2 separate regions of the Homo sapiens genome follow, and region 1 is linked to region 2. The links come from fine-mapping of genetic effects on gene expression. A gene starts in region 2. The other region holds a variant in brackets. All regions are shown on one strand. Distances are from middle to middle.

Region 1 (8,000 bases), 24 kb before region 2:
CTTTTGTTTTCTCTCATATTTGAAATGTAAATACTTGGCCAGACACAGTGGCTCATGCCTGTAATCCCAGCACTTTGGGAGGCCGAGGTGGCCAGATCACCTGAGGTCAGGATTTTAAGACCAGCTTGGCCAACATGGCAAAACACCATCTCTAATAAAAACACAAAAATTAGCCGGGCGTGGTGGCGGGCGCCTGTAATCCCAGATACTCGGGAGGCTGAGGCAGGAGAATTGCTTGAACTCAGGAGGCGGAGGTTGCAGTGAGCCAAGATTGCGCCACTGCACTCCAACCTGGGCGACAGAGTGAGACTCTGTCTCAAGAAAAAAAAAAAAAGAAATGTAAAGATTGATCATTAGTGTTTAAGGAAATCCTGTTATTTGAATACAATCCCTTATTTCACAGAAAAAGGACAGCTGGTGAACTGTGTGCCCTCATATCCATAAACACCAAGGGCATCTGTGCGGCTCCCCTGACACAATAACTTTGGGGGTACCCAGCTCGATGGGAGAATGTGTCTTGCAGGTTCAACCCCATTATGCGCTTGCAAATGGCGTAACTAGGCTAACTCTGGCCTAGTTTCTCAGTCTTCAGAATCTTATCGTTGATTTATGAGGCAATGTTTACGTGGCTGTGCTTGGCCATAACTCACAAAACCAGGAAGCTCAGCAAAGCCAATCTCCAACAACTCTCACTACTCGAAGCCTTTTCTCAAACCTCTCGACCTAGCCATGTGCACACTCTGCTCCTCAACGGCTTCCTCATCCCTGCAGCTCCCAACATCCCTGTCCTCCTCACTGATGCCTCTGCCTCACCCCTCTCACCTGACACTCCGCTCTGCTTCTCCATCCTGGTTCTTTTGCTTCCTTTCTCAGCCAGAATGTGCCCTCTTCCCCTGGTTGGGCCACCTTTTGCTGCCCAGGACAAACACTCACAGTCTCATCTGTCCCTGGGACTCCGTCTCCACACAGCACTTCTCTGGCAAAGCCCCTCCTACATTTGGCCCCACAAGCATTTTTTTTTTTTTTTTTTTTTTTTTGAGACGGAGACTCACTCTGTCGCCCAGGCTGGAGTGCAATGGCGTGATCTCGGCTCACTGCAACCTCCGCCTCCCGGGTTCAAGCGATTTTCCTGCCTCAGCCTCCCAAGTAGCTAGGATTATAGGCACCTGCCACAATGCCCAGCTAATTTTTGTATTTTTAGTAGAGACAGGGTTTCGCCATGCTGGCCAGGCTCAAGCATGGACATTTTATGAGTGGAATCCAACACTAGTAGCCACAGCCTCAAAGCATCTTATGTGGACAGGAAGCCCCACTCCAAGAGTAGAGCTGTTGACTTAGAAAGCAGCAGCCTAACCTCCCTGAGGGCAGGGACTTGGCCGTTGTGTACATTCCCTGCCTGTTCCTATTTCAGTTCCTGACACATGGAAGGTGCTCACTATATATTTTTAATAAATTAGTTAATTGATTAATTACATTTTAAATAATTATAGTATGACAGTTTCATAACAATGAAGCTGTAGAAGAAGGCATGGTCTGACAGCCCCACCAACAGTCAGGAAAGGGACAGGGTTTGGGTGACTTAGCTGAGCCATTATGGCCATCTAGTGGCAGAACAGCGACATCACTGGTTTAGTCAGATAGTGGAGTGGTTTTTGATTTTTGTTTTTGAGGCAGGGTCACTCTGTCGCCCAGGCTGGAGTGTAGTGGTGTGATCTCAGCTCACTGCAGCCTCTGCCTCCCGGGCTCAGGCGATCCTCCCACCTCACCCTCCCAAGTAGCTGAGACTACAGGCTTGTGCCACCACGCCCAGCTAATCTTTGTATTTTTTGCAGAGACTGGGTTTTGCCATGTTGCCCAGGCTGTTCTCAAACTCCTGGGCTCAAGCGATGCGCCCACCTCAGCCTCCCAAAGTGCTGGGATTACAGGTGTGAGCCACCGTGCCTGGCCGATCATTGTTTTGTTTTGTTGTGTTTTAAGATAAGTTGTAAAATTAAAATGTTGATAGCAGGGTGGGAGGTGGGGAGAGACAAAAATAAAAGAAGAAAAAAAAAAGTAAAATGACGATAGCAAACATATTGTATGAGAAAGAGAGAGAATAATGAAGAGAGGAGTCAAAAGATGGGAGTGAAATTCTTGGGAGAGCTGCAGAAGGGGAGTATAGGGAAAAGGGGCCAGGTGGCTCCTGTACTTGTCAAAGTTGACATCCAGCATGCCCGCCTTCTCCTGGCTGATTCGCAGCAATGGGGTATCCAACCGCCGAATGCAATCCTTGTCCAGACTTGATGTCCACTCTTGGAAGGTTTTTCGAACCAGCTCATCAATGGCCTGGACCATCTGCTGATAGGTGTGCACACTCTCCTTTCCAGTCCCAATACGGGGCAGGAAATGAGCACCAGCAAGGCACTGAGGGGAAGAAGAACAGGTGGGTGGAGTCGGCCTGCCACCTTCCTCCAGGGGCCACCATCTCCCTGAGACCTACACATGCGCGCATGCGCACATACCCCAACAATATGCATAAGGCTTGCTATGGAGATGGATTGAGTTTTGATAACTTAGAAGGAAGGTAGAGTCAAAAAGGAAGGTGATAGGAAGAGACCAAGGCGCAATGAGAAAAGGAGTCAAAATGAGGAAAGAGAAGCACAGAGAATTTGTTTAGGAAAAAAAGCTGGGAGAAAAAGGTCAGTCACAGAAGGAGCAGGATATGAGGCACAAGGTTGAAAACCAGTATCAGCCCTTCCTAGCCTGGGCGTAGTCCACCAGGCCCAAACCAGCCTCCAGCTATCTGCAGGCTGCCTAACTCTCTACCAGCACCAGCTGCATGATGGCAGGTCACTACCTCAACAGCTTTCAACCTTTATTCCCAAAGGGTGTGTGTGTTCATTTGTTTGTTTTGTTTGTTTGTGACAGAGTCTCTCTCCACCACCCAGGCTGGAGTACAGTGGCGCGATCTCGGCTCACTGCAACTTCTGCCTCCAGGGTTCAAGCAATTGTCCTGCCTTAGCCTCCCAAATAGCTGGGATTACAGGTGCCCGCCACCACACCTGGCTAACTTTTTGTATTTTTAGTAGAGACAGGGTCTCACCATGTTGGCCAAACTGGTCATGAACTCCTAACTTCAAATGATCCACCCACCTTGGCCTCCCAAAGTGCTGGGATTACAGGTGTGAGCCACCGCACCTGGCCCCAGAAAGTTTTAAAACAATGTTTTTCTGTTGTTTCTTTGTGCTGTCTTTCCAGAGAGACCAGGCTCTGTAAGGGTGTCACCTGTCCAGGTCTCTGGATCATGAGGCTGTATCTTCTACTGACCCAACACCCCAGATACCGGCCCTATTCCTCCTCTGCAGCCTGATATGAAATTCCTAAAATGAGGCCGGGCGCAGTGGCTCATGCCTGTAATCCCAGCAATTTGGGAGGCCAAGGTGGGTGGATCACCTGAGGTCGGGAGTTCGAGACCAGCCTGACCAACATGGAGAAACCTCTTCTCTACTAAAAATACAAAATTAGCCGGGCGTGGTGGTGCATGCCTGTAATCCCAGCTCCTGAGAGGCTAAGGCAGGAGAATCGCTTGGACCTGGGAGGCGAAGGTTGCGGTGAGCCGAGATCACACCACTGCACTCCAGCCTGGGCAACAAGAGCAAAACTCCATCTCAGAAAAAAAGAAAAAAGAAAAAGAAGCCGGGCGCGGTGGCTCACGCCTGTAATCCCAGCACTTTGGGAGGCCCAGGTGGGTGGATCATGAGGTCAGGAGACTCAGACCATCCTGGCTAACACGGTGAAACCCCATCTCTACTAAAAATACAAAAAAATTAGCTGGGTGCGGTGGCGGGCACCTGTAGTCCCAGCTACTCGGGAGGCTGAGGCAGGAGAATGGTGTGAACCCGGGAGGCAGAGCTTGCAGTGAGCTGAGATCGAGCCATTGCACTCCAGCCTGGGCGACAGTGTGAGACTCCGTCTCAAAAAAACAAAAAGAAAGGAAGGAAGGAAGGAAGGAAGGAAGGAAGGAAGGAGGGAGGGAGGGAGGGAGGGAAGGAAGGAAGAAAGAAAGAAAGAAAGAAAGAAAGAAAGAAAGAAAGAAAGAAAGAAAGAAAGAAAGAGAGAGAGAAAAAAAAGAAAGGAAGGAAGAAAAGAAATTCCTAAAATGGCGCAT[G/T]TTCTACCAGCCTCACACACCACCTCTGCAGATCTTAACCCACGACTGACCTCACTGAACTGGACCTGCCACTCCCCTCACCGACATAGGTGCTGGTCCTGAAGACTCTTTGGGGAACCTCTCAGGAGCCATCCCCCATCCCTCCTGGCGGTCTCACTGACGACAGAATATGGAGAAGGCCAGGCACTTACGGTCATGACTCTGTCGATGCGACGCCGGAGGATGTGCACCCAGCGCGCCTTTCCGGAATACTGGGCCACGTAGGGCTCCAGGTCTGGCCATTTCTTGTTCCGTTCACGGTTCACCAGGGCCAGCTCGCTATTGAACAGCATGTAGAGATCCACCGCCTTCTTGTCATAAGTCCGCTTGATAGCCTAGGGAAGAAGAGGAAGAGGCTGGCGACGTGCCCGGGAAGGCGGGTTCCCTCCGGTCACTCATCCCAGAGGAAAGCTGCACCCCGCTGCGGGAGTCACACTCCCGGGGACGCCGAAGCCAGGGAACAGAAGAAAGACAAGAGGCGCCCGAATGCTGGACATGGAGAAGGGCACACGTGGAGGCAGGAGGGCCTCCGGAAGGAGGGACTCCAGGAAAGCACGCGGGACGGGAAGCCGAGGAAGCCGCGGGGCAGCCGCACCTCGCGGGAGGCAAGCCTGTGGAAGGTGTCCAGCAGAAGCACGCCGTGCGGCACGTCCCGCACCAACTCGAAGGCTGAGGTGATCAGGTTCTGGGTCATCACCTCCAGGTCCTTGATTCCGGCACGGAACCTGCACCGGTGGAGAGGCATGTGGCAGCTGAGTGCCCTCGCCTGCCCCCAACTCCAACCCCTGAGGAAGAATCCCATGCATTGCTGAGGACAGAGGGCTTCCTGTGTGCCAGGCACTCCAAGTACTTTACCTACATGAATCCATTTAATCCTCAAAACAATGCTGTGAGATGGGCTCTATCTCTAACCGTATTGCATAGAGGAGGAAGTGGAGACAGCTGGTGGAGTAATTTGCCCAATGTCATATATCTGGTATGTGGCAGAACCAAGATCCAAGTCCGGAAAGGCTCACTCTGGAACCCTCAACCCAAGCTGCCACCCCCCTCCCCTGCACTCTCTCCTGTCCCCCCCCCCGGGCCACCGCCCTGATCCCGATCTGTCCTTCCACCATTTCCTTTGCATACTCTCGCCACTCCTCCCACTCTTGGCTGCCTGATCTGCCTTCCCTGCCCACGCCTGGCATCAGCCTGTGGTTCCCTCACTTATTGTAGTCTTCATGCCAACAGGTGTTCTTGACATCCAGGATACCCCCGCGAACGGCTCGCAGCGTGTGCAGATTTTTATGAAAGATGTCCTCAATCTCCAGCAAGTTCCGTGTTATCTGTGGCCCCTGGGCACCAAAGAAGCAAGGAAGGGGACCCTGCTTGCCATCTTCCCAGCGGGCGAAGTGATACTGACAGTCACATACCTAAAAAAGAAGACAGCATGAGGGTTCCTGCTTTCCTTCCAAACTCCAAAGTCCTAAGCTATTTGGTTTAGCTTCAAATGTCTAAAAACATCACTGTGAGTGATGGCAAGTGAAAAAAAAAAAAAGAAGAAGAAAATATCTAAAAACCAGGGAGGGCCAACCAGCTGCAGGGGGCTGCTGGGATGAACTTTGGCCACAGAATGAAATATGAAATAGTAGGGCAGCGATAAGAGGCAAATGCCAGAAAAAGCGGTGTGGTAGTAGGACACACAATTGTGCAGGAAAAGCCAATGTGGTAAGTGCAATTTTCTTTTCTTTTATTTTTTTGAGACAGAGTCTCTCTCTGTTGCCCAGGCTGGAGTGCAGTGGCATGATCTCGGCTCACTGCAACCTCCGCTTCCCGGGTTCAAGAGATTCTCCTGCCTCAGCCTCCCAAGCAGCTAGGATTACAGGTATGCACCACCAGGCCCGGCTAATTTTTGTATTTTTAGTAGAGACGGGGTTTCACCATGTTGGCCAGGCTGGTCTCGAACTGCTGATCGCAGGTGATCTGCCCGCCTCAGCCTCCCAAAGTGCTGGGATTACAGGCGTGAGCCACCGCGCCTGGCCATAAGTTCAATATTTAGCCTCTGCCCCGTTTGCCCTGGTTCCTGGGGTGGGAGGTGGGGAGGGATTCTGGAGGGTCTGCTGTTAGCTTTTGGTTCTTCAGTCTTCCCACCTCAATAAGGTCCTTGCAGCGCTGCACAAAGGCATCAACCTGAGCAAAGATGCTGGTCTGATCTAGGACCCAGCCCCGACTGGAGAACCTGTGTCAGGAGAAAGGCCGACTGAATTGGAAGGCAAGAGCAGTCTGGCTATGCAAACCTAGACCAGGAGCCCTGCATTCAGGGAAAGCCCTAGAAAAATCAGACCCCGAGAAACAACCCTCCTGAATCCCAAAGGACAAGACTCAAGGTGAGAAGAACCAGACAGGAGACAGAGCATCTAAGTTCTAGGAGCAGATTCATACATAATAGAATTTTAGACGATGGGGTCAAGATAGGAGGAAAAGACCAGGTAGGGTTCCTGGGATCAGGGAGGAGAGATTATTAAAATAAGAAGCCAGGCAGGGCGTGGTGGCTCACGCCTGTAATCCCAGCACTTTGAGAGGCCAAGGCGAGCAGATCACAAGGTCAGGAGATCGAGACCACCCTGGCTAACACGGTGAAACCCTGTCTCTACTAAAAATACAAAAAATTAGCCTGGCATGGTGGCGGGCACCTGTAGTCCCAGCTACTGGGGAGGCTGAGGCAGGAGAATGGCATGAACCTCGGAGGCTGAGCTTGCAGTGAGCTGAGATCGCGCCACTGCACTCCAGCCTGGGTGGCAGACCAAGACTCTGTCTCAAAAAAAAATTAAAATTAAAATTAAAAAACAAAAAAGGAGAAGCCAGGGCAATGAGATACAGTATCTGTATCCAGACAGAAAATTTGGCCAGATGTAGAAACTCCTGGGTCTCGGAAAATACAACCAAGAGGCTAAACAAAGTGTACAGGAAAGAAGTCAGAATCTACCCTCTTACAGGGCTGACAAGGGAGTTGAGACATGGGATGTTAGGGGAGGCGTATCATACTGGATGTGCATCTGCACAGCCTGTACGTAGTGATCTTTCCAAGCGTGACAACAGAGAATGCAGCCTTGCAGGTCCTCCTTGCTGGAAGAGACATATCCCTCAAAGATCCGGTCCAGGGAGATGGCGTGGCAGCATAAGCGGATGATCTCATTGCTCATCTGCAGAAGGAGTCCCCACAGCCTCTGTCCCCACCTCCTTGACACCCAACTCCTTCTCTGCATCCCCCTGCCCGTGCTTCATGTCTCAGCCCCCTACTCCTTAATTTGACTCCTGAAACTCATCCCACCCCTGGTTCTCCACCCCTGGCCAGGCCGACACCTCTGGGTTCCATGCCCACTCCTTGTCCTAGGTGGCCCCTTACTCTGCCTCAGCCCAGCTCTGCAGCCACCCTGCCCAGCAAGGTCTCAGCTCAGTGTCCCTTCTCCCACTCTTTGGCTTTTTCACCCCCAGTGAATGCACCAGGCCCTGCTCCTCAAGAGCCGGTGCTCCTTCCTAAATCCCCTCTCCCCCACTGCAATCTCCATCTTGAGGAATGGGAAGAAGAGCTTTTCCTTCCACACAGCTCAGCTTGGGGGTCTGTTCTTCCTGCTGCTTCCCCGTCTTCCACCAACTCCTCTTCTGAAGCCCCTCTTCCTGCCTAAGCCACCTCCACCTAGAAACAGAAAGTCCAGCCCAGGCTCCAATGCTGAGCAACCCTAAAGCAGATCATGCCGGTAGAAGCCTTCTGAGCTCAGTCTCTGAGCAGAAGGGCAATCTTCACTACCTTTTCAACCACAGATCCTCTGCCGAA
Region 2 (9,489 bases):
CACACCCACTCTGACTCCCATAAAACCCAGCGGCTCTGTTTCTCTGCCTCCTGATCTACTAGTCACACAGGAGATTGGAGTAAAACTGGTGGCTTTCCCATTCCCCAGGGGCTGAAAGGAGGAAGGAACAAATGAGATATAACCAAAAGACCATGAGGAACAGGAAACTCCCTCTGGCTTCCAGAAAGGAAAACTAAGAGGGGAATGAGGCACAGAGGCCGAGGCAGGAAGGCGTGAAAAGATGGAACAGGCGATTCCGGAGCTTAGTAGTAGGTGAGTAGGTGAGATGATCCAACTCCCTTGGGAAAACTGCTGGCATTCAGGTTCCAGGCAAGAACTAGGCCAGGGGAGACTGGGTGCGGTGGCTCACGCCTGTAATCCCAGCACTTTGGGAGGCCGAGGCAGGTGGATCACTCGAGGACAGGAGTTCGAGACCAGCCTGGGCAACATGGTGAAACCCCATCTCTACTAAAAATACAAAAATTAGCCGGGTGTGGTGGCACACGCCTGTAATCCCAGCTACTCAGGAGGCTGAGGCAGGAGAATCGCTTGAACCCAGGAGGTGGAGGTTGCAGTGAACTGAGATCGCACCACTGCACTCTAGCCTTGGCAACTGAGAGAGACTCTGTCTCAAAAAAATAAAAAAAATAAGCTGGGCATGGTGGTGTATGCCTGTAATCCCAGCTACTTGGGAGGCTGAGGCACAAGAATCACTTGAGCCCGGGAGGCAGAGGTTGCAGTGAGCTGAGATTATGCCAATGCACTCCAGGCTGGGAGACAGAGTGAGAATTTGTCTCAAAAAAAAAAAAAAAAAAAAAAGAAAGAAAGAAAAGAAAGCTTGGAGCTGGGAGAGGCAGAAATCCTTGCTGTTCGAAGGCCAACACATTCATTTTAAAGCTCCTTCCCTTACCTCCCCAGAGGATTCTCCATACTGAACCTCACTGTCTTCCCTCCCATCTTCCCCTACTCCTCCTAGCAGCGAGCAATCCCATTTTAACTGCTTTCACCTGAGCACTTCAGAACTCAGAAGGATACATTCTGCACATTTCTAAGATCCTGGAACCTAATGCAAGTTCTTATGGCCCAGGGACTTTTCTCCCATGCCCACGCTTAACCTCTCAACCTTTAATTTTAGAAGGGGATTCTATTTCACAAGCTACTATCAGTGTAAAGGAGCTCCAGGTAAAGAAGGAGGTCTACACTTAGCTCATAGTCCTGTCTACACTGACCAGTGCTCTCAGGGAGATCCCAGCAATAGCAACAACTACCAAAAACCTTCCAACCTTACTGGCTCCGGCTCACCCACAGGAAAGGAATCCCTCAGGTCAAAGCCACAAGAGGCTGCCTCGTTAAACTCTTTCCTCCCTAGATCTAGACTTCTTTCCTGTCATCCTGAACCTGAACCTCCGCAGTCTACCAAGTCCCTGCCAAAATGAGGGCGGAGATAGAACAGCCCTCAACAGATGGTAGAAAGCATCAGCCGGGCTTTGGATTCAAAGGGTGGCAAAACAGGCTGAGTCTCCATGGTGATGGGCTTAATGGGAGAAAAACATTATTTGTTTTGCCACCCAGGGTGAAAATGGGAAAAAGGAAGAGATCAAACCCTCTTCAGTGGGGTAGGAGCAACCAGGAACACTTGAAATAAGGAGGAAGAGGCTAGAGAAAGGACTGGTTGGTGAACTCCTGGTATATTGTGGGAAATTTTAAGACAGAAAGAACAAGGATGAGGCTGGCCAGGAGGAAGACATACAAAAAAAGGACTCAGTGGCAGGGCTGCTGAACCTCCATGGCTGGGGGCGTCACTTAGCCCGTTTCCTGCCCAGAAGCAACAGCGCCTGCTCCCCAGCCCTAAAATGCCTCCAAGCCCCTCTGACTTTCCCCACCCTCCATTGCTAAGCATCCTCTGCCCCAGCAAGTACCCACCAGGCTCCTCCTTGGGGAGCTCAGCCTGCAGCTCTGGCTCACTGACAGCCGGGGCATTCCCCTGCTCCTGTGTGGCCACAGCAGCCCGAGTGGCCCGCCCTGACCAGCTTGCCTGGGAGCTTCCTCGGCCACTCAATCGCTGCTTCTTCTCAGCTTTGCTGGACATCGTGCAGGCAAAACCTACAGGTATACAGGAGTGGAGAGTCTACAAGCAGATACCACCCCTGAACCAGCCCCCTGATACAAGCAGTCCCTTTTGAATTCATAAATTGACTGAAACTCAATATGATCATCTTTTCTGGTGGTACCCACACCCTGCTCCATTAACCACAAGGGCTCTGTACTCCACAGGGGCCTGGGAGGCCTTGCTGTTTTTCCCTAGGATATCCTACTGTCTTCGGGGCACTGGGCTAAAAATCAAAGTCAGTCCCTCAAGGCACTAGGAACAAATGGGAGTTAAAGATGATGGCCAGGCTGGGTGCGGTGGCTCATGCTTGTAATCCCAGCATTTTGGGAGGCCGAGCCGGGTGGATCACCTGAGGTCAGGAGTTCGAGACCAGCCTGGCCAACATGGCAAAACCCCGTCTCTACTAAAAATACAAAAAATTAGCCAGGAGTGGTGGTGCGTGCCTGTAATTCCAGCTACTCGGGAGGCTGAGGCAGGAGAATCTCTTGAACCCGAGAGGTAGAGGCTGCAGTGAGCCAAGATCATGCTACTATACTCCAGCCTGGCTGACAGAGTGAGACTCTATCTCAAAAAAAAAAAAAAAAAAGATGGCCAGACACCCCACTAATGAGGATTTAGAACCTCTATCTCTGCCCCGGGGTATGAGAACATAAGATAATCAGGAAAAGATCTATCAAGCTGAAGTGTGGTTGCCCAAACCCTCATCCACTCTACCCTCCAGGACCATGAGTGAGTGAGAGAGGATCAAGGAAGGGGTGCACATCCCCCATCCTTTGTCACTGTTCAATCATTCAAGCAAACCAAGATGATTTTCCTATGTACCTCTTTTCCTCCCAAGTTAAATGGAAATATGCTCCTCCCAATCCCACTAAAATCTGCAACATCTGTAAACAGAGAAAAACAGTATTTGCCACCTGGGTCTATCGCTTTGAAGTCCTGAGGGGCAGGAACACTGTTTTGTGTGTACTGAGGTCTCTTAGCAGAGTTGGCTGAGGAACTCTGTGCTAATGGTTAAGATCAGTCAGGATCATTTATTTGACTCAAAATGCCCTGAGAACAGATTGGAAGAAAGAAGGACAAAAGTCATCCAATCATAAATTTCAAATTGTGTCATGAGGAAAAAGCAATTGGGGCACGAGGAAGGTCACAGTGGTGCCTCTCTCAGAAAGGTAGGATGGCAGGAAGCGGGGATCTCGGACAGGTGCTCAGAATCCCAGGCGCAAAGTCTGAGGCGCTGGGCACTCTCTTTTCATTAGGCTGCAGCCTAACGGCACCTGTGGCTCTCCTTCCTCATCCCCACAGGCTGCCACAGGCATTGATCTCAGGTTATGAATTTCAAACTTGAAGGATTTGTACTTTGCTCCAAGGAAAAACGTTCTGTTAGGCCAGCAAATCAATAAAACCAACTACAGCAAGGAGGCTTCCTCCATCAGTCTCCAGAGAAGCATCAAGCTGCGCTTTCCTGCCTCAAACTAGAGCCTGAGGCGCATGCACCGTGGGGTTCACCACGCGATCCCACACCGCAGGCCCCAGGAGGAACTGCTCTGCTAAGTCGGGGCTCACTCTAGTACTAGGAAATACCGCAGGGGCCAGCAGTATTTATCCTGCAGTATAAATCCAGCAGTATTTATCCAGCAGTATTTATACCAGCAGCTGGTATCCTTAAACTGGTTACCAGCAGGCAAATTTCCCCTCAGAATGGCTCTTCCCCCCCAGCTGTCACAACTGCCCCTTCTCCTCCCCCTCCCCCACACAAATATTCCTTGCTCCCTCTCCCTCCACAACTGCCTCTTCTCCCCAACAACTGTCCCTTCCTACCCCGACACTACTGCCCCTTCTCCCCAGCACTCCTTCCCTCCTTCCCTCTGCCCCCGACACACACCTTGCCACGCTGACCCTCCCCTCCCTAGACCGACCGATGGGCCACTCTAAGAAGTTGCCCCTCGCAGCCCTCTCGGGCCGGCGTCTGCACGCGTCCCCATGGCAACCCCGGGCAGGGAGGGGCGAGTGGCCGGTGTGCGGCCCCTCGGAGCCCGCCTCCTCCGCGCAGGCGCCCTGGATCCCTGCTTCGCGGCCCCACCCCGCCCAGGTCTACCCCTCAGGGACCCAGGGCTTGAAGGCTCCGGGACTAAAGGAAAGTAGCCACATCTGGCGAGCCGAAGGGTGCGGGGGGCCTGGTGTCAGGACCCAGCTGGAAGGGCTGGGGCGAGAGACAGTGAGCCACCGCCCCGCAGGACATTGAAAAGGCAGGGAGAACCCAATCGCCCGACCCCGCGCCCAGGTCTGTGCGCCCCAGCCGGAACGGGTCCAGCAGATGGCGCCGGGCGCCAGGCCGGCGAGGGATATTCGCGATGTAGAAGGCGTTCCAGGATTTCCAGGCAGCCGTGGGTGCAGCTGGATCCGGGGGAAAAACCGGGCCTGGAGCACCCTTGCCCTCCTGCTCCTTCCCCCTTCTTAGTTCGGATTGGGGTCTAGGATTGCGGGGGGGCGGCGCGGGGCGGGGAAAGGGAGGGAAGACGGGAACTGGAGTTTTGGGAATCTGAGGATTGGCTTTCGAAGGCATCGCTGGTTTTTGGGGGGGATGAGAGGCGGGGACTCCCTGGGGAAGGTGACCGGGCCTGGGAGGGGCTTCGCTCTCCATAGGAACAAAGGCTGCGTCGTGAGAGAGGAGGCGAGAGGGGAGGGCTATGAGGGCCGGGGTACATCTCCGAGGGTGCCAGGGGGCGCTGCGGGCCGGGGCTGCTAGAAGGCGCCTGGAAGACCGCTGTACCTGGTGCCGGGAGGAGCTTTGGGGAGACCTGGGAAATACAGGGAGGAAGCCGAGTGGGGGGATGGGAAGGCGCCCTCCCTGTTTCCATCAATAGTGCCTAATTAAGACAAAGCCAGCAGCGAGCCCACTGATTACATTTCCATGAGGAGCGAAATTTATGACATTTTCTTTGCTGGATGAGGAGAAGAGAAGCTGGCACCTCAGTTCCCCCATTTTCTGTTTGGCGTTCACACCTAACAGATCTCATTATGCCAGCCTGGCACTACCAGGAGTGGCAGTCCCTGGTACTCCTGAAGAGCAAGTGGATTAACCACACCCTATCCCAGCGCTGACCTCACCCTCCCACCTACCGTATCTTTATTCCCAGAAGTGTCAACCCTTTCCCTCCCCCCGACCCCCAATAATTCCTCCTGCCCAGCCAGACTCCTGTTGCTGACAGCAGGAATGGAAGGAGAGGAGTACCGCCCACCCCAAAACCAGCTGCACAGCTAGCACAGCTAAGATGGAACGTGGAGGTGTTCCTCTAGCCAGATAGGCCATGGGTGGCAGACAGAGGTGATGTGGTTGGCCAGAACCCCTAGGGAAAAGTCCCAAAGGAGTGAAAATTTGCTGGAGGCGTGGGGTGGGGAGCCTCAGGGGCAAGGTTCATGGGTCCCTCGGGGAAAGGAACTTTGCACAGACCCCATTTCTTTTCTTAAACCCCCCTCCCCAACTGTGGCTGTGCCTACGGATCCCAGCCCCCCACATTATGCTAAATAGGTAATCAAACATCTCGCTTTGCTAATTACTGCTCAATCCGATTAAACGCTGCTGAAGCTCATCAACAGAGGTGGAGGTAGGGGGAAGGGACGAAGGCGGGGCAACCACAGCTAGCTATGATGGGGGTCTTTTCCCCAGGGGCTCTTCGGGGCTAGAGAAACAGCCAGGGTTGCAAGACCGTGTACATCCCAAAGGAAAGGGCAGAAGAGTTGTGACCTCGAGCCTCAGCCTTGCTGCACCTCCCAGCCACGGCCCTTTTCCTCCTCCCAGAACCTTCATTACCCTCCGAACCCAGGCATCCGGCCATTCCCACAGCTCCCCACACACATCCCTGTCCCAGATTTAATAAGTTCTGTTCCCTCATTGTCAATATTTGATTTCTCAGAGCCATCTCCACGGAGAGGGGGGTGGGGGATCTTTCCTTGCCTCCCCCCTACTTTGGCCCTCTTTTGCCCACCCCCAGTCTCTTTGTGCCCCCAACCTTCTCTGAACTTGCTGACTTAATGAAATGATATTAAAGTCTTAAGCAACTCCAAAAGAATGGTTGTTATGGTGAAGGGAGTGGGCAGGACGCCTGGGTCCCGGAGGGGAGCAAAGGCTGAGGAGGGGGAAAGGGAGCCAGAGGCTAAGGTCTAGAGACCCCAGTCCCTAGTGGGGAACAGCAGATTTGGGGTGAGCTGGGGGCCAGACCTCTGGATCTTGGCTGGAAGCAGGGGATGAGGACTGGGGGCTAGGAGAAGGTGGAAAGAGAGGTCCATTCCAGGGGTCAGGGTCTCGGCCTGCTGTCCGGATCATTCATCAGAGACAGAGGCCAGGGGAGACAGGGCCTCTATGCCAGCAGCCTCCCTGCCGGCTGTGCCCTGGGCTGGTCCCGTGAGAACCAGAGTAGATTACTCTACAGCCTGACTCATCCTTCTCCCCCAGCAGCCCCCCACAGGTGATTTGTAGCTGATGCCCCCACGATGGTAGGGGCCAGGATAGTCATTCCATGACATGAAGAACTGAGAGCTTCCAGGACAGAAGAGAACAGAGGCCAAGGGAAAGGAAGCCAAGCACCCCCCTTCACCTCCCCCCACCCATCCCCATCTCCCCTGGGGACCCTGGCCCAGCCCCAGTCCCCTTGGGGTGGTGGGAATGCAAGGACATTTGGCTGGGGCTGATTGATGAGGGAGGAGGCAGCCACCGGGCACTGAGGCTGCTGTTTGCTGAGCACACAGATTCCTCCCAACTCACCAGCTGCTACCCCCTGAAGCAGCTCAGTCTCCCCCCGACATCACCCCGCCAGCCACTGGGGTTGCGGTGCCTGAGTTTCTGATGGCAACTGGAGGAAGAGGGAGAACCAGAAAACTGAACACTTCGATTCCCTGTGGGAATTGGGGTACCTGGGGCCTGGTCCCCTCAGAACTCCCTTCAGAACTCCACTTTCCCTGCTACCTTTCAAGTAGCTCTCTGGCTGCCCAGTTGTCATTCCCATTCATTCTGTGTCCCTTTTCCTTCCCCCACCCAACTCTGAGCCTATGCCAGACAGCCTCCTGCCTCCAAACCACCGTGTGACATTTCTCCCAGGTCTCAAAACTCTCCCAAGCCCCATGTCCACGGTGGCCCATATAGCCCCTTAGGAAGGGCCATTTTTCATTCTAATTAAAATTCCAGATATGATGTCAACCATTCCGCATCAGAAATTCCCACTGCAAGGCCAGGCACAGTGGCTCACATCTGTAATTCCAGCACTTTGGGAAGCTGAGGTGGGTGGATCACCTGAGGTCGGGAGTTCAAGACCAGCCTGGCCAATGTGGTGAAACCCCATCTCTACTAAAAATACAAAAAATTAGCCGGGCGTGGTGGCACATGCCTGTAGTCCCAGCTACTCGGGAGGCTGAGGCACGAGAATTGCACCACTGCACTCCAGCCTGGGCCACAGAGCGAGACTGTCTCAAAAAAAAAAAAAAAGAAAAGAAAAAGAAAAGAAATTCCCACTGCCACTCCTTGCCCCATTCCCCTTTCCCTAAAAACCCCCAACACACACACACACACACACACACACACACGCACACACACACGCACCTCGGGCTGAATAGTATCCCTCAGCTGCCGTTATTTGGAAGGAGGGCAAAGCCTGAGCTTCACTCTACAGCTCAGCCCCAAGACAGCCTCAATCCTATGCGGTTTGGGGATGGCAGGGCGACAGCTCTAGCTTCTGTGGTCCCAGCCCTCTCGGTTCCTTTACTTCCGCTCTGCCTTCCTGCTCTGGACTCTGCCAGCAGCTGTGCCACAGCCCCCAAAAAAGCTCAGAGCATCATCCTTGCCCTCCCAGAGCTTAAAATTTAGACGAGGAAAACACAAGTCACAGACACACAAGAAACAAAAGGCAAGGGGATGGGAGACTGAGTGAGATCAACTTCCTTAATGTGGATCCAAGACCCTAAGTGACTTACTCCCCTCCAGGCCGAGGCTAGGGAAGAACAGGACACATCCGAAACATGCATGTGGTGGTGATGTCCTTCTTACTGTTCCCAAACACACCACAATCTCACCTCTGTGCCCGTGCACTTGCTGTTCCTCTGTCTAGCATGCCCGTCCCCAGTGTGCATGGCTTACTCCTGTCTCATGACTTAAGGTCCTGATCAAGGGCATCTCTTTCAAAGGGACCTTCCTGACCTCCTCATCTAAAGCAGCTCCAGGCCGGGTGCGGTGGCTCATGCCTGTCATCCCAGCACTTTGGGAGGCCAAGGTGGGCTGAGCACCTAAGGTCAGGAGTTCGAGACCAGCCTGGCCAACATGTTGAAACCCCGACCCTACTAAAAATACAAAACTTAGCTGGGCAAGGTGGCGGGCACCTGTTAATCCTAGCTACTTGGGAGGCTGAGGCAGGACAATCATCGCTTGAGCCCGGGAGGTGGAGGTTGCAGTTAGCCGAGATCGCGCCACTGCACTCCAGCCTGGGCAACAGAGCAAGATTCCATCTCAAAAATAAATAAATTAATAAATTAATAAATAAATAAAGCAGCTCCTGGTTACTCTCCATCCTCCTCATCCTGTCATTCTGTTTTGTTTATATCCCTTTTCACACCTGAAATTGTATTATTTCGTTCCCCACCTAAATGTGGACTTTGTGAAAGCGGGGACCTGGCCTTACTCACCCTGTCCTCCCAGCGCCTGAACCGGTGCCTGAAACAAAGTAGCATTTAACATGCTGCTGAGCGAGTGAACGAACAAACCAATGAACAAACAAATGTCTTCCTGTGCCTGTAGTCGTTTTGCTGTAGTTGTTTTGTTGCAGTTGTTACTCTAGGAATATGTGTGTGTATTTGTCCCCACAAAGCAAATAGGACGGCCTGTGTTATTCTGCGTGGAAGTCACCAGCATTTTCAAATAGCTCCAGACACCCAAGTCACTACACATGTGAAAGGCTGTTGGTCTTGTGCTATTCGAGCGGGGCTGCGGGGAGTCTCTGGATGCCAGCGCTCTGAGGGGGCGTGTCCCAGGCGCTGTGCAGTCTGTGCTGTTCCTCTCCCTGGCTGTGCATCTGTCCCCAGGTGTCTTCCTGTCTCTCAGCATGTTATGATGTCTTGGCTGCTTTGGCGAGGTGCTTGTCTGTCACGGAGACTATTTATCCCCACGTCTCTTCCCTCTTGTCTCTCCACCTGTGCCTCTAGATGTAGGTGGAGGGGGAGTCTCCCTGATCTCCCTTGCCCCTCACACACCACCCTGCCCCAGTCTTGGACCCCTCCCTTTCTCAGTGGGCCCTGTTGCTGGGCTCTGGGTTGCCATAGTGACGGTTGCCAAGTCCCTGAGGCTGATAGCCAGCGATGGGGCTGTCGGCTCCATCCACGCGGGAGGCTGAGGGGGG

Which allele goes with the higher level. Alleles are on the strand shown, and positions count from the first base shown. SD is a standard deviation of normalised expression in the study named.
For the expression in cerebellum of the gene that starts at base 4,080 in region 2, T is the high allele of the variant in region 1 and G is the other (moderate effect, 0.65 SD a copy in GTEx).

What was found. PIP is the estimated chance that this variant, and not a neighbour inherited with it, causes the effect.
Region 1: its variant is fine-mapped to the expression of DNAH2 in cerebellum (GTEx, PIP 0.91).

What each region holds. Positions count from the first base shown.
Region 1 is chr17:7,737,331-7,745,330 of GRCh38, reverse strand. DNAH2 (dynein axonemal heavy chain 2) reads right to left here. Exons shown (of 86, transcript NM_020877.5): 9 at 5,393-5,598; 10 at 4,782-4,911; 11 at 4,339-4,521; 12 at 2,189-2,403. Among named protein-coding and RNA genes, the nearest start is that of DNAH2, 24 kb to the right of the region's middle. The variant G/T (reference allele first, on the strand shown) is at 4,148.
Region 2 is chr17:7,712,335-7,721,823 of GRCh38, reverse strand. It overlaps DNAH2 (dynein axonemal heavy chain 2), which reads right to left and starts at 4,080. Exons shown (of 86, transcript NM_020877.5): 1 at 3,025-4,080; 2 at 1,924-2,103. The coding sequence starts at 2,089.